2 separate regions of the Homo sapiens genome follow, and region 2 is linked to region 1. The links come from fine-mapping of genetic effects on gene expression. Tissue or cell type: whole blood. Region 1 holds a variant in brackets; the other region holds the start of a gene. All regions are shown on one strand. Distances are from middle to middle.

Evidence for each region. PIP is the estimated chance that this variant, and not a neighbour inherited with it, causes the effect.
Region 2: SEC23B starts here. The variant in region 1 is fine-mapped to the expression of SEC23B in whole blood (TOPMed, PIP 0.99).

The regions. Positions count from the first base shown.
Region 1 is chr20:18,541,904-18,550,108 of GRCh38, forward strand. SEC23B (SEC23 homolog B, COPII component) reads left to right here. Exons shown (of 20, transcript NM_006363.6): 13 at 393-499; 14 at 1,116-1,269; 15 at 4,053-4,130; 16 at 6,706-6,867. Among named protein-coding and RNA genes, the nearest start is that of SMIM26, 21 kb to the right of the region's middle. The variant C/T (reference allele first, on the strand shown) is at 3,508.
Region 2 is chr20:18,502,830-18,511,034 of GRCh38, forward strand. SEC23B (SEC23 homolog B, COPII component) reads left to right here and starts at 5,111. Exons shown (of 20, transcript NM_006363.6): 1 at 5,111-5,143; 2 at 7,993-8,205. The coding sequence starts at 8,007. It also overlaps the pseudogene RPS19P1. RefSeq lists enhancers at 4,652-4,981, 5,332-5,381.

The sequences.
Region 1 (8,205 bases):
AATAAATGAGGCATGTCTGTGTTTGTTTAATGATTAACAATCCGTCACAAACTGGATAATTCATCAGCAATAACTCATCCAGTTTGTGATTCATCAATCCATCTTCGTTTTGCTGCATTTCAAAACAAGCCTCAGTCATCCATGTATTTCATGCCTAAACACTTCAGTAGGTGTATCATTAACTTAAGTTCAGTATTGAACGTAGTTCTTCAACTTTTTTGGAGATAAGGTTATATGCAGTGAAATGTGCAAATCCTAAGTGTGCCCTTCAAAATGTGTCAAGAACCTTCCTGTCATTGCTGTGTCAGTCATTTTAGAAGAGTACAGTGGGCTCTGTGACCGTGTTTGAGTTGCGCCTATAACAGACAAGGTTATGGCCTCTCATCCTACAGCACAACACCCCGATCCCCCAAGGAGGCAGAGGAGCCATCCAGTTTGTCACGCATTATCAGCACTCCAGCACCCAGAGACGCATCCGCGTGACCACCATCGCCCGAAAGTAAGCAGCCCCAGTTTCCTTTCTGTTGAGGAACTGACTGACATTTTTCCCTTGAAGAGATACTTTAACATTTGTTAGTTTGTCTTTTTGATTCCATTGAATGGTTCTCACCAGACCTCATTAGCTTATTTGATCAGAGGAGGAGGCATTTTTGGCTAACCCAGTTGGGCCTATGAACACTTGCCTAGAGGAATCATCTTTCTGTAGGAAATATAGTTCATTAAAAGTATTAATTATTATTATTATCATCTGGAGACAGTCTCGCTCTGTTGCCCAAGCTGGAGTACAGTGGCACAATCACAGCTCACCACAGCCTCAACCTCCCATGCTCAAGTGATCCTCCCACTTCAGCCTCCCAGGTAGCTGGGACCACAGGCACCTGCCACCAAAACTAGCTAATCTTTTTACTTTTATGCAGAGAGATGGTGATCTCACATTGTTGCCCAGGCTGGTCTTGAACTTCTAGGCTCAAGCAGTCCTGCCACCTTGCCCTCCCAAAGTGTTGGGATTTCAGGAATGAGCCACTGCACCTAGCCTGTGTTTCTTTTTCTGAATGGATGTCTGGCTTTCTGATCTCTCCTAAACATAAGCATGGCACTAACTCTGGAATTGTCAGTTGGGCAGATGTACAGAGTCAGCTCAGGCACATAGAAGCAGCATTTGACCAGGAGGCTGCGGCAGTGTTGATGGCACGGCTTGGGGTGTTCCGAGCGGAGTCAGAGGAGGGGCCCGATGTGCTCCGGTGGCTGGACCGACAACTCATCCGACTGGTAAATTGGGGACAGTGGCATTAGGTTCAGTCTTGGTTTCTGCTTTACTTTCGAGAAGAAAATTGTCACTTAATTATTATTATATAGTGAATCAGCAAGAATTTATCAGTTGCCTACCTTATGCTGCACGCTGGACATTCTGTTAAAGACGTGTTAAATGTGCATTTTCCCCTCAGAGATTTACATTATAGTTGGGAAGAAACAACACGCATGGAGCATTTGGAGAGTGATACAAATCTGTGTGGGTTGAGTTGACTTAGATGAGTCATTTTGTGAATGCTCTGGTCTTGTATTTTTCTTCTAAATCTGGAAAGTGGTTTTGGAAATAGGGATCCAGCCTGGTAAGTTTAGGGAGATGCCTTTTATCAGTCTGGATTTAATGAGATGAGAGAAGTCACACTGTAATTTAAATGGGGAAAGTCTTTTATAAAGAATACAACAAGAGAGTAGAACAGTGAGGGACTGGCTAGAAGGAAGTATAGAGAAGTGGGCAGCCACTACTTGTGGGGCTGAGATAGAGCACCAAAGGAAGTGCCCTTCTCCCCAGGGCTGATCCAGACCTAGTTGGGAGGGCATGGCCATGGCTTGGTGAGTCTTTTGCAGAGAAGTTACCGTGGTGCTGTGCCAGGGGAACTTACTAGAAATTCACTTTCTAGAATTTGAAGAAAATCCACCCTCCAGGGTGCCAGGGAAAGCTGTGTATAGGAAAATGTCTCACTGGAGACATGCAGGGATGCTGCTTAGCTGCTGGCTGCCATGTTCTCCAGGAGCTCAGCACTGGGGAGCCACGGTGCAGCAGGACCTGGCACCCGGGAAGCTGCTGAATGAGCACTCGGGCGCCCAAAGCTGACGCTCACCTCCAGCACTCTCTACTGACAACGCTTGATATCGTGCCAGCTGGCAAAGGAGAGGTAGTGAAAGGGCCCATGTCCATTTCACAGCAGGCAAAGGGGGTGAGTTTGGAGCCAGCACAAGGCAATAAATCAATAATTGGCACATGATAATCTTACCTTCCTGGAGAGTCACAGCATGTGTTTGTGATCAAAGCCACCATGGAAAGGCCCAGTAGGGAAACCTGTTTCATTTTGTTCAGCCCTCTATTTGCCCTTGCCATCTCATGGAACCATTTTTCAGGAAGTGTCAACATTTCAAACATAATTTGAAAATTGCTTCTTTAGGATTTCAGAGGGAGGATAGATAAGCAGAGGGCCCAGGTGGCTAACAAAGACTTCCTGTGGAAATGAGCCTTGAGTCAGGTTTTTATTACAGAATTAATTGGAGAAGGGAAGGCAAGGCTTGCTGAGTGGAGGGCTAGCAGGAATGAGCCTGCAGGAGCTAGCTGGGTCTTTTAGCTTATGCTGAGGACTTTGGAGAAACCAGTGTCACAGGAGGCTAGGTTGTGCAGTGGGGAACAGAGTCAGGGAAGGTACACCTTGATTGGGGAGCTCCTTAACTTTAGGGAGCAAGGGAGACGTGGCTGTGATTGTTAAGCGGGGGTTTGATGTCAGCATGATGCTTGTGTTTACATTTAATATCACCATGTGAGGCACATTGCAGAGAGAAAAGGCTATTGTTGTGAATGGAGGATTTTTCAGGCTCAATGGCACTGAGACCAGCATAGTGGCAGGAGAGATGGAGGAAGCAGAAGGTTTGAAATCAGGATGTAAACTGAAAGAATTGATAAAACTTGATGAAATGATTCTGTGTAAAGTCAAAAACCAAAAAGTCAGCACTGAATGACATTTCACACATGGGTAACTGCATGAGTGGTGTTGAGGTAGAAGATGGGAAAGGAGAGCAACTTTAGGGTGGGAGAAAGTTTTTTCTCTTTTTTTAATGTAATAGTTTATTTTTGATAATTTTTGATAATTGAATGTGAACTTGCAAAAGTGTGTCTCACGAAAACTCCCATATTTGGGTGGATGTCCTGACTGGGGCTCAGGCTATAGGTCAGCACTGGACACTGGAGGGTGGATTTGGATGACACCCATCTGGCTCTAGTGTTCATTTGTACCCAAAGCAGTGAGGATGGGAGGAGGGGGCCAAGAACTAACCCCCAAGGAGTCCACAGTTAGGGGGAGGAGGAAGACAAAACCATTGAAGAAGGCAGAAAAGGGTTGGTTGGAGAGATTATGAGAAATAGGAAAGTGATGTATTAGCAGCTGAAGGAGAAAGTTTCGAGACATTTGGGCAGTCACCTGGCTCATGCTGCTAGGAAGTTCAAGAAGACGAGAACTG[C/T]GGAAGGACACCAGATTTTGTGGGAAGAAAGTAATTGTTAGAAATGGGGTTTCTTTAAATGATGAACAGTCCAATTCTTTAGTGACCAGAAATGTGTGAGCAGAAATAAAGGCGGGAAGAGAAAACATTGTGGTTCAGAAGTCTGCCATTGGGAGAAATAAATTTGAGTTTTAGTGTGAGAGAACATCAAAGCGTAACTATAATTGTTAGTTTTCATGGTGTTAGAGGGTTTTCATATGGAACAGGTGCCTGGAAGAGCTCACCTAGCTTCTCTGGTTAGGGCAGTCCTCAGGCCAGCATTGCCTGAGAGCTGATTAGAGATGCAGAATCTTCAGCTCCTCCCTAGAGTCTGCATTTTAACAAGATCCCCTGGTCATTTGCCTGCTCACTGATGCTTGAGAAGTGCTAGTCTAGGACTTATAGTAAGTGGCAGAGTTCAGACTGGATGTAGCTTAGTCCAGGAATATTTCCAGGTAATGCTAACTTAGATTTTTCTCTCTCTTTTTGTGTGTGTTTGTTTGTTTTTTGGTATTTTCTTTCCATAGTGTCAAAAGTTTGGACAGTATAACAAAGAAGACCCCACTTCTTTTAGGTTATCAGATTCCTTTTCTCTATATCCTCAGGTAAGTAATGTATGTTTCTAAAATAACTACAGAGCAATAAATTTTGATAGAAATTAACTTTATTCTTAGGGTAAAGTGAAGACTTTTTAATGTGTTGAGACTCAGTCTGTAGGTGACAGAGATTGTTCAACCCAAGTCGAATATGTGTCTAGGCAAGACAGCACCCTACGCCCTACAGAAGATAGAGATGACATGCAGAGGGGAGAAAACTCATGCATACATTTTCATGAACAGGCAAAATAGGATCATTGATATAAGGCCGTAAAAAATATCTCTCATGTGTAGAAGTTCTGGGGAAACAGCTACCTCAGCAACAAACCAAGAAAATGAGCACACATGGAGATGAAGATAACAAAACAAAACCACAGTTAGTACAACAAATATTTAATAATATGTCTGTGGTTATTATGTGCATCATAACCAGGAGTGAGCAATAAGCAGCTCCTGAAAGTAACTGCACTCTGCATGAACCAAGCCTTTGGAAGCCATTGGACAAGAGAGAGGAGCAGGAGAAGTAGATGAATTTCCGTCTCCATTGTAACTTAGGAAATAGAGCACAATTCATGGGTGTCTATAAGGATTACAGGAGCTGAGGCCAACTGAGTATTAAATATTTAGCACAATGCCAGTAACCTGTTCAGCACTAAATGTGACCTAGCTCCATAGCAGGTGCCTGGGACTCTGAGGTGTCCATGTGCCAGAGGTTAAAGCTGTGTGGTGTTGTGAGAAGAGCCCTGGACCGGCCAGAGTCAGGTTGAGGTTCCAGTGCTGGCTCCGCAGGGGCTGACCTTAGAGGAGGTTCCAAAGCCCCGTAGAGTTTGGTTTCCCACCTCTAGCAGTGGGGAGTTGGTCTGGTGAAGTGGTTTGCAGTTTTTTTTTTTTTTTTTTTTTTTTTTAAAGCCATGGAATCCTTTCTTTGAGAGGAGCTGCCCTTAAAAGCCAGCACATAAAGCAGACAGAGTTGGTGCTTCTCTGGTTGTGCCTGTGTACCACCCCCACACTGGGTCCCACCAGAGCCCTCATCCCTGGGCCCCTGAGGACTTGATGAAGACTCTAAGAGCACAGCTTGAAAACCAGATGAAATGCTTTCTCAGATTCCTTCTGTCAAGGCATTCTAGGAAAGAGGCCAACAGCCCAGTCTCTAGAGCCAGGCGGCCAGGTGTAGAGTCCAGCTGTGACACTCAGTAGTGGGGTGACCTTGGACAAGTTGCTCGCCCCTCTGTGCCTCAGTTTCCTCACCTGTAAACTAGGGATGGTAAGAGAACTTACCTCATGGGCTTATTGGAAGGATTAAATAGTTCTTGTCAAGTGCTTTGTGACTTGCATGTAGGATGTATTAGATGTCAGCCTTGATTATTATTTAGGAACCTATGATTGAATATTTGGAGTCTCAGGAAGCTTTACACTTCACAAGGCAGCTCATTTTCGTGTTCTGGCAACTCTTTAATGTGAGCTGAAAGTCTGCCCCCACCCCTTCTTCTCATCCTCGAGGGCGAGAACCTATGGTTGCAGTGTCATCCCTTGTCCCTTTCTCCCCTGCACCAACACTTCACCATCCCAGCTTGTGTCCTGAGCTGTCATCTGCTGTTCCTGTGCCTGGAATCCCCTTCCCCCTGGCCCTGTGGCCTCCTCAGCCACGTCTCTCAGGGTGCACTGTCAGTCCCCGGAGCTCTAGGAAGTCTCCTCCTGGCCCTCCACCCCCACTCCCCACTGCTATCCTGTACTCTGGCTCATAACTCGTAGCCCGAGTGTGCCTTTCTCACTGGGCCTGACTTCTGAGAGCAGATATTCTGTCTCCACTGCCTGGCACAGTGACTCTGGAAATAAACATTTCTTTGGCTTTCCTCTTAACTGTGGAAGCTTTGACATACCCAGAGGCCCTTTTCTTAAAAAAATTTTGTATTTTTTTAAAAATTTTTAATTTTTAATTTTTTTGAGACGGAGTTTTGCTCTTGTTGCCCAGGCTGGAGTGCAATGGCCTGATCTCAGCTCACCGCAACCTCCCCCTACTGGGTTCAAGTGATTTTCCTGCCTCAGCCTCCTGAGTAGCTGGGATTACAGGCGCCCACCACCACACCCGGGTAATTTTGGATTTTTAGTAGAGACGGGGTTTCTCCATGTTGGTCAGGCTGGTCTTGAACTCCCGACCTCAGGTGATCCGCCCGCCTCGGCCTCCCAAAGTGCTGGGATTACAGGCGTGAGCCACCACGCCTGGCCAAAGGCCCTTTAAAAAAAAAAATTAATTTTTAATGTGGTAAAACACACATAACAAAATTTACCATCTTAACCATTTTTAAGCATACCGTTGAGTAGTGTTACGTGTATTCCCATTATTGAGCAACTGATGTCTAGAATTTTTCACTTTGCAGAGCTGAAACTCTGTGCTCATTAAGCAACAACTCTCAGTTTTCCTCTTTCCCTAGCCCCTGGTGCCCCCTTATGCTTTCTGTTCTGTGAAACCAGAGAGCCCTTTTCTGGGTTCTCCTATTTCAGAGCCCTGAGGTAGATCTACTCTGTGGGTGTCTAAGAAGGTTACAATTATATGCATTTCTCTTTCCGTTCTTTGTGAATGCAGTTTATGTTCCATCTGAGAAGATCTCCATTTCTTCAAGTGTTTAACAACAGTCCTGATGAGTCGTCATATTACAGACATCATTTTGCCCGGCAGGACCTGACCCAGTCCCTCATCATGATCCAGCCCATTCTCTACTCTTACTCCTTTCATGGGCCACCAGAGGTGAGGCTCTACCCAAATGCTTTCCTGAGGATTGGAATCACCTAACATATATTCTTTTTTAAGCAAATTTACTTAGCAGAACTGTAAAAAAGAAGTAAAATTTGGAGTTTTTATAGTAATTTAACATTATTTCTATTAAAAAATACCTTTAGGAAAATGTCAAAGGACATATAAAGCTATTATTTGTGAAAGGCAGGAATAAATGTAAAAAACTCTAGGAAATAACTTGGATGCTTTCTTTTTCCTTGTGCTTGTATACTTACATCCAACAATTCCATGTCTTGTATCTGAAGGAAAGACTCCTAGATACAGAGTAGACTTTGTGCCAAAAAAAAAAATAGTAAAGGAACTACTATAATAGAGGATCAAATAACAATCCGAATGTTTAATATAGGAAAATAAATAAGTAACCTGAGAAATGCAGTTGACCCTCAGTATTCATGGAAGATTGGTTCCAGGACCTCCCTCAGATACCAGAATTCTTAGATACTCAAGTTACTAATATAAAATTACATAATATTTGCATGTAACCTTGGCACATCCTCCTATATACTTTAAATCATCTCTAGATTAGTTATAATACCTAATATAATGTAAGTACCATGTAAATAATTGTCATACTGTATGGTTTAGGGAATAATGACAAGAAAACAAGTCTGTACATGTACAGTACAGATGCATATTTTTTTCAAATATTTTCAGTCCAAGATTGGTTGAATTTATAGATGTGGAACCCACCGATACGGAGGGCCAACAGTATTCACAAAAAGTATGTAACATAATAAAATAGATAAGTCCTTATGTAAAAATGTTACATGAAAAAAAGTCAAAATAGAAACGTTTCTAAATATTCCCTGCAAAAATAAAGAACTATATGGAAAAAAACAAAATATCAATATTTGTTGTACTTGGGTACACATTTAAAAATTTTCTTTATCGAGTACCACTTACTTTTATTATTGAAATAATTACTAAAATAGCAGGGGGATCACATGACATCAGGAGTTTGAGACCAGCCTGGCCAATGTGGCGAAACCCCATCTCTACTAAACATACAAAAATTAGCTTGGAATGGCGCCAATAATCCCAGCTACTTGGGAGGCTGAGGCTGGAGAATCACTTGAACCCCGGAGGCGGAGGCTGCAGTGAGTTGAGATCGCGCCACTGCATTCCAGCCTGGGCAACAGAGCAAGACTCCCTCTCAAAAAATAAAAATAAAAAAGAAATAATTACATATATAAAAATTATATGTGTATATGTAAATATAATAAATTATATATGTATATATAAGAACTATGTATATAAATATATATGTATATGATTATATATGTATATATA
Region 2 (8,205 bases), 39 kb before region 1:
GTATTCTGAGATAAGGAGGAAATAGCCAGAACAGCCCAGGCTGTGTTCTAGCCTCACTAAAAACAAGATGTCCTTCAATGCTTTTACGGCTTTTCCCAGCTAGAATACAAGTGGGCATGCACAGACGAGACTCGATCTGCACCGTGTGGCTTTCCTGAGTCTTGAGAGACCAGCTCATGTTGAATCCTAGGTTTCTGCTGTCCCTTGCTGCTTCTCTGTGAGTAATAAATCCACTTCATGTAACTTGTGTATGTGAGTGTTCTGGCTCACCAGACTCGGGCAGGTAGTAGAAGTACAGCCCAAGATGCAGTGAACTGAATTGGTAACCAGTGCACAGTAAACACACTTTGAAGAACCCAGCAGGTTGCTGAATATTTGAATCGGATGTTAGGTAGAAAAGTCTGACCCAGAAATACAGAATTTAGGCTGAGCGTGGTGGCTCACACCTGTAATCCCAGCACTTTGGGAGGCCGAGGTGGGCAGATCACCTGAGGTCAGGAGTTCGACACCGGCCTGGCCAACATGGCGAAACCCCTACTAAAAACACAAAAATTAGCCAGGTGTGGTGGCCTGCGCCTGTAATCCCAGCCACTCACGAGACTGAGGCAGGAGAATCGCTTGAACCCAGGGGCAGAGGTTGCAGTGAGCCAAGATCGTGCCACTGCACTCCAGCTTGGGCAACAGAGAGAGACTCCATCTCAAAATAATAATAATAAAATAAAATAAATAAAAGAATTTAGACTCAGGCTACAGATGATGATAATATGTCAGAAAAATTATGAAAGATTTTGAAATAGTCAAAAGAGGTTACTGGGTGAACTTTCTGTGGAGTGCTGTGCATTTTTAAAAGACTCTCTGGGGGCCGGGAGTGGTGGCTCATGCCTGTAATCCCAGCACTTTGGGAGGCCGAGGCGGGCAGATCATGAGGTCAAGAGATCGAGACCATTCTGGGCAACATGGTGAAACCCTGTCTCTACTAAAATTACAAAAATTAGCTAGGCATGGTCGTGTGCACCTATAGTCCCAGCTACTCGGGAGGCTGAGGCAGGAGAATCGCTTGAAGCCGGGATGTGGAGGTTGCAGTGAACTGAGATCGCGCCACTGCACTCCAGCCTGGCGACAGAGCGAGACTTCGTTTCAAAAACAAAAAATCCCCTGGGTCATTTGCCGTAGGAGGGATGTACCTCTGCCTTTGAGTATGCTATTTTACAACTCTGTAGAGATAGAAATTAACTTATAGAAGATAGTAATGCAAATGTTCCCTGCCCACAACAATGAAAACTATTCCTGTCCACAGCAATGCAAATCAATTTTGTGTGATAGAGAATATGTCACTATAAATCAAATTCTCCTTAGAACCAGTCTGAACATCCCTCCTGGTCGTAGGGATTAATTAAAATCAATGAATGAGTTAAGTAAGATCTTTGGCACATGTTCATTTTATATTTGCATGAAGGCCATAATTTTACCTTTTGAAACACTTTAACAGTTTTGAAGCTTTCACCAACATCCCAATGGATTCACCTGACAGAACCAGGTAAACCACATTACTGAAGAACACCCCATGGGGCTAAGCCCAAGCACATTTTTTCCTGGCTCCGGGAGTGAATACCAAGTAGCAATAGTACTACAGCGTTGCTGACTTTCTCCCTAGGTTTCTTTCTCCTCCTTACTGATTTTGGGTTTTGTTTCTGATTCGCCCACAGCTGGCGGATTTTTCCCCATGAATGGCGACACCAATTAGGAACTCGCGGGAAACCCCGTTGCTCCCTTTCCCCTGGCTGGCAGCGCGGAAGCCGCACGATGCCTGGAGTTCCTGTAAACCACGTGAACCAGCGGGACTTCGTCAGAGCTCTGGCAGCCTTTCTCAAAAAGTCCGGGAAGCTGAAAGTCCCCGAATGGGTGGACACCGTCAAGCTGGCCAAGCACAAAGAGCTTCCTCCCTACGTTGAGAACTGGTTCTACACACGAGCCGGTTCCACAGCGCGGCACCTGTACCTCCAGGGTGGCGCTGGGGTTGGCTCCATGACCAAGATCTATGGGGACGTCAGAGAAACGGCGTCATGCCCAGCCACTTCGGCCGAGGCTTCAAGAGTGTCCTCCGCCGGGTCCTCCAAGCCCTGGAGGGGCTGAAAATGGTGGAAAAGGACCAAGATGGGGGCCGCAAACTGACACCTCAGGGACAGAGAGATCTGGGCAGAATTGCCGGACAGGTGGCAGCTGCCAACAAGAAGCATTGGAACAAACCATGCTGGGTTAATACATTGCCTCATTCAGAAAAAAAAAAAAAAATTAGGAACTAGGTTTTACATTCTGAACATTTGGTGATCTCTTTAAGTGAATTAATAGTTTTTAGAGATCTATTCTCTTTTGGATAAGAGATGATGAAAAATCTGGTTTGTTAGTCTTTTTGTTTGTTTGCCTTTTTGTCTACTTATGAGTTCAAATCAGTTAAGACTTCCATGCCCATTGGGAAGGAGAACAGCTTTTTGTTATCTAGTCCACTGAATTTTTATGTTTCTGAATTTACTTTCGACCTGTGGCCAAAGTTGCAGAACCAAAGCTATATGCTATGTGTCTATGTGTCTTCCCGGCTGTAATCAACAAAGGCCTTCCCCTCTTGTTGTGGGAGTAAAAAAATCTTACTACCTTTGTAAAGTTTTAATAAGTTATATTATTTCATGTCTTAAAGGAGCTCTGTTATAATTCACTTATGGAAACAAACACATGTAAATCAATTATTTCTAAAATTCCAGAAAATAAGTAAATTAAACTTATGCATGCAAAATTTCTTAAAAATGCTGAAACCATCCTGACAGGGTTAACAAGATTACAAGCCAGCCTTTAGGCAGGTTAGTTAGGCACTGACCAGGGTGCATTGGTGCCCTTCAATTCACTTCCCTGCAGCTGCTAACTAACCAAAAGCCTTGCAGCACACTGATCACCTACTCCCTGATTGCTCCTATCCACAGAATCTCTGACACTAGCTCTTTGTACCCAGGAATTGCTTAAGGTATTTTTCAGATCCTGAATTCCCACAAAACAGCTGATGCCAAACTGTCTAGGGATCCCCACCAGGAAGGGCACAGTGGCTCACGCCTGTAATCTTAGCACTTTGGGAGGCCAAGGTGAGAGGATCGCCTGAAGCCCGGAGTTTGAGACTAGCCTGGGCAACAAAGTGAGACCCTGCTTTACAAAAAAAAAATTTTTTTAAATAAATAAATAAAGACCTCCACCAAGAAACAACACTGGAATGAAGTTTCTTCATCTCCCTGTCCCATGACTTCACCTCTCACTTCCTGACCAATCAGAAATCCCCACACTTTAGCCCATTGCCCCTCCAGACTTCTTAAAAATGCCATCTCTAATCTCTTGGGGAGGTGGATTTGAGGATTGCTCTTGTCTCCTCATTTGGCTGCCACTTGATTATGGAACTCTTTATCTGCTGCAACTCCTATTCTTTCTGTTACCGCACAATGGACAATCGAACCTGATGGTCCTATAACAATCTTTCTTACAGAAATTGCTAGTACAGAAAGAATCCAGGTTCAAATAATCAAGGCAAATCTTTGGCGAATAATATTAAGTTTTGGTTAAAAAAAATCCCAGCTATGTCTTTTCTCAGTGTTAAGTATTATACATGTGTACATTTTGAGTTTGTTTCCTTACCGAGAATAATTAATCTGAACTTCCTAAATTTATAAAAGTTTACTATTGATAAGCTAATATTAACATTACATTGTTTAAGATCCTGAAAAATGTGAATTTGTTCAACAAAACTGAATCATTCTCACATTTAACAGTAATTGTTTCTTTGTGCCTTAAACTATTAATAATTTCTATGATCTGTAGATAACTTAAAACTTAGTATTAAATTGAGCTAATTAATGGATACTTCTTGGATGCCTAGATATGTTCTTGCATAATTTTATGTTTACATCGTTTTGCTTATTTTTATATGCTACAGAGACTACAACTCTGAGTCACAGTAATGATGTGTTCATGTTTGCCACTTGTCAGCGTGTGTAAAAATGGTTGTGGTGGCTTTATACAGTTGTGTTCTATCGCGCCTTTTGCAGCAACATGGATGCATCTGGAGGCCATGATCCTAAAAGAATTAACGCAGAAGCAGAAAACCAAATACATGTTCTCACTTGAAAGTGGGAGCTAAGCATTGGGCACACATGGACACAAAGGTGACATTAATAGACGCTGGGGACTACTAGAGTGGGGAGGGAGGCAGGGAGGGGCTGAAAAACTTGGGTACTATGCTCAGTATCTGGGTGACCAGCTCATTCGAATTCGAAACCTCATAGCCAGGTAACAAATACGCAGTGTACCCCCTAAATCTAAACGTTGGAATTATTTTTTAAAAGAAAGTTATGTTCCATGTATTTCTAAGCTTACTCTCCTAAAATGGTTGAATATTACAGTTCTCAATTATTTATCTCCATGTAGAAGGATGACAGGGACTGTGCGCTAGTGCCAGCCTCCGCTGAGAGCGCCAAGACATTACAGCAAGCGACGGTAGGAGAGCTTGTAACGTGAAGCACCACCACACCTCTGTACTTCAAACTTAACCACAGAGACCGACTCCCAAACCAGCAAGTGCGTAAGCGCCGCCGCGCTCACCACCCGCCCCGCCCCTTCCGCATGCTAATGCCTTCTTCCGGCAGCCTTAGTTTCTTCCAACCAGTGCAGCTCCCTGTTCCGCGAGCATACGTCATCGTTCTCGCTTTCCGGTAGCTAAGGCGATCAGCGGGACTTCCCACTGAGACGAGCGGATGTCATATTGTATCAGGGCGAACCTCTGAGGAGCGCTGGCTGCGCTTAGGCAACGGTGCGGCAGGCGCCGGGGTTTTCTGAAACAGAAACGTTTAGGGGTGGGGAAACGTGTTCCGAGGAACTCTCGTTTTGAAGTGCGACATACACCTGTCTTGCCCTGTTCCAAGATGGTGGCAGAGCTTCTCTGAGTCTCTCGCTTCCTCCAGTCCGTCGGAGAAGCGCTCTTTGATTGGCCAGTGGACAGCGCCGTGGCATGACGCGCTGGGGCGCTGGCCAATCGGTTGAGAGCTGAGCTGGACTTGGCGGTGGGAGCCGGAGCCTGCTTGTTGCAGCTGTGGGTGAGGACGGCTCTAGCTAGGTGAGCGGCTCCGGCCAGGTGAGCGGGGCGCATAGGTGACGGAGGGCCGAGGGCACGGGTATGAGTTTCTGCCGGGGGCGAGGTGAGCGGCTTCTGGGAGGAGGCCTTTTCTTGACAGTTTAGGGTAGCGGGGGAATGGATGATCCGGGAGTCCCCTGCGGATGTCGTCCCGCACCAGGCCGGGACCGATTTCTGGCTCCAGTTTCCCCAGAATTGCGGAGTGCGCACACCTGGAAGGACCCAAGTCCCGTTTTATAGTTGAGAAACTCAAGACTCAGACAAGTGAAACGACTTTTGCTTCATGACAGCTGGAACTGGAACCCAGGTCCTTGGACTCCCTTCAAGGATTAAACCTCACTTATTCTTACATACACATGGTCACTGTGTCCTGAGAAGTTACGAGTTGGCGCGATAAGGGTGGTTCAGATTTTTTGGCATATTCTCCTGTTATCTTTCCAGGCCTTTCATTCATTCACTAATTCATACTTTCAGTTATTTACCTCTTCAGATACCTTCCCCGATACTTTGGTAAAAGCTATGGACCCATCTCCCTAGAAAAACGGCATATTCCCTCATGCGCATAACTTCAGATGATTAGTGGACCTTCTATAGTCCCCTTGGATTATGTGTCCACTGCTAAGAATCCAGACCCTAGAAGGGTGAGGGAAACAGGCAGTAGGAAAAGGAGGGAGCAGGTCTTAGGCTGTACATGCTTGGAAACCATTAGATGGAGGCAGTAGCTTCTTTTTTTTTTTTTTTTTTTTTGAGATGGAGTCTCGCTCTGTCGCCCAGGCTGGAGTGCAGTGGCGTGATCTCGGCTCACTGCAACCAATGCCTCCCAAGGTCAAGCAGTCCTCCCTGCCGCAGCCTCCCGAGTAGCTGGGATTACAGGCACCTGCCACCACGCCCAGCTAATTTTTGTATTTTTAGTAGAGACGGGGTTTTGCCATGTTGGCCAGGCTGGTCTTGAATTCCTGACCTCAGGTCATCCACCGGCCTCGGTCGCCCAAAGTGCTGGGATTACAGGCGTGAGCCACCGCGCCCGGCCGCCAGTGCCTTTTAATAAAGAACGTTTTGAGAGAGAGACGGTTATTTAATGAAATCTGCTGACATACTTGCTGAGAGTTGTGATAGAACTTGCTTTCATTCCGACTTTAGTTATCCCTTTGCTTCCCATGAAGCTCCAGAGTGCTTCCTGTGCACACAGTGCTTCAGGTTCTTGCCGTTGCCAGAAATAAACAGATTTCTTAGAGTTTCAGTTGGAGCAAACATTGGAATTCTTGTGTTCTGGGCTTTATGTAGTAGAGTAATTCATTTGCTTTTCTAGCCATGCAATATTATTGCCTTAATCAAAATTATTTACAGTATGGTACTTCCCAAAATAACAGACAGTTGTTATCCATATTCAGGAAGTGGGCGCGAGAGGCCACTTTAATTTGATAGACTCTTTAATTTGCCTTTTTACTACTTTTCTTGAGGGGCTTGTTCCCTTGAACCCCAATAGCTGAGTTGTGTGTTACCCTAGATTTTAGGATATGAACAGGATGTATAAATACTCAATGAAGTTGGGATCATCTGGGTTTGAGAGTTTAGCCTGTAGGACAGTTTTACTGACCACAGTCTTCATTTTTTTTTTGAAACAGAGTCTGGCTCTGTCGCCCAGGCTGTGCAATGGCATTGTCTCGCCTCACTGCAATCTCTGCCTCCCGAGTTCAGACGATTCTCCTGCCTCAACCTCCTGAGTAGCTGGGACTATGGGCACGTGCCACCACACCTGGCTAATTTTTGTATTTTTAGTAGAGACGGAGTTTCACTGTGTTGGCCAGGCTGGTCTTGAACTCCTGACCTCGTGATCCGCCCATCTCAGCCTCCCAAAGTGCTGCGAGTATAGGTGTGAGCCACCACACCTGGCCTTGACCACAGCCTGTCAAGGCATGAACATAAGCAACCGTGGTGAGGAAAGAGGTTCTGGTGAGACTCAGCATAATAGTAATTTTGGTAATACCAAGTAGAAATAATTTAGCTCAAAACTGGTTCCCATTATGAACCAAACTTGAAGATCAGTATCCAGCTCTTTTCTCCAAAGTTAACAAAGTGCGGAAGGGAATGAGCACCCCCCCGCTACTGAAAAAAAAATCACTTGGAATGTAAAATTTAATAGAGGAAGAAAGGAAGGAGATTAGAGAGGAAGATAGTTGGATGCCGAAACAGGGTTCAAGACTTACCCTTGAGCAAGGGGCTGAAATTGGCTTGACTGATAGGACGTGTGATCTGTGAGGAGGTTTGAAGTAGTAGTGTTTAACTACATGTAGTTTGGAGATGATCAGGTGATTGTAAACCTCCCACTCCTTTGATTTATTTTTAAGTGCTTGAAAGGAGAGGTGAGAAAGGAGCAGTGATCAATGATAACTGTGCGGTTAACTGACTTTTGGGTATCAGATGGAAAAGAAATACTGTCATTCTACAGCAACAGGTTCTTCCCAAGTATTTAAGAAACACTGTGTTAGTTGGGCCGGGTACAGTGGGTCACGCCTGTAATCCCAGCACTTTGGAAGGCCAAGGCGGGTGGATCACCTGAGGTCAGGAGTTTGAGACCAGCCTGGCCAACATGGTGAAACCCTGCCTCTACTAAAAATACAAAAAATTAGCCGGGCTTGGTGGCACAGGCTTGTAATCCCAGCTACTTGGGAGGCTGTGGCAGGAGAATCGCTTGAACCCGGGAGGTGGAGGCTGCAGTGAGCTGAGATGGGAAAAAAAGAGAAACACTGTGTTACATGACCCATCTTCTTTTTTTGACATTTAGTTCAGAATTTCACATACCATTAAGGTAATTAAAGTTTTATCTTCAGTTCCCTTTTAGACTATGGCGACATACCTGGAGTTCATCCAGCAGAATGAAGAACGGGATGGTGTGCGTTTTAGTTGGAACGTGTGGCCTTCCAGCCGGCTGGAGGCTACAAGAATGGTTGTACCCCTGGCTTGTCTCCTTACTCCTTTGAAAGAACGTCCAGACCTACCTCCTGTACAATATGAACCTGTGCTTTGCAGCAGGCCAACTTGTA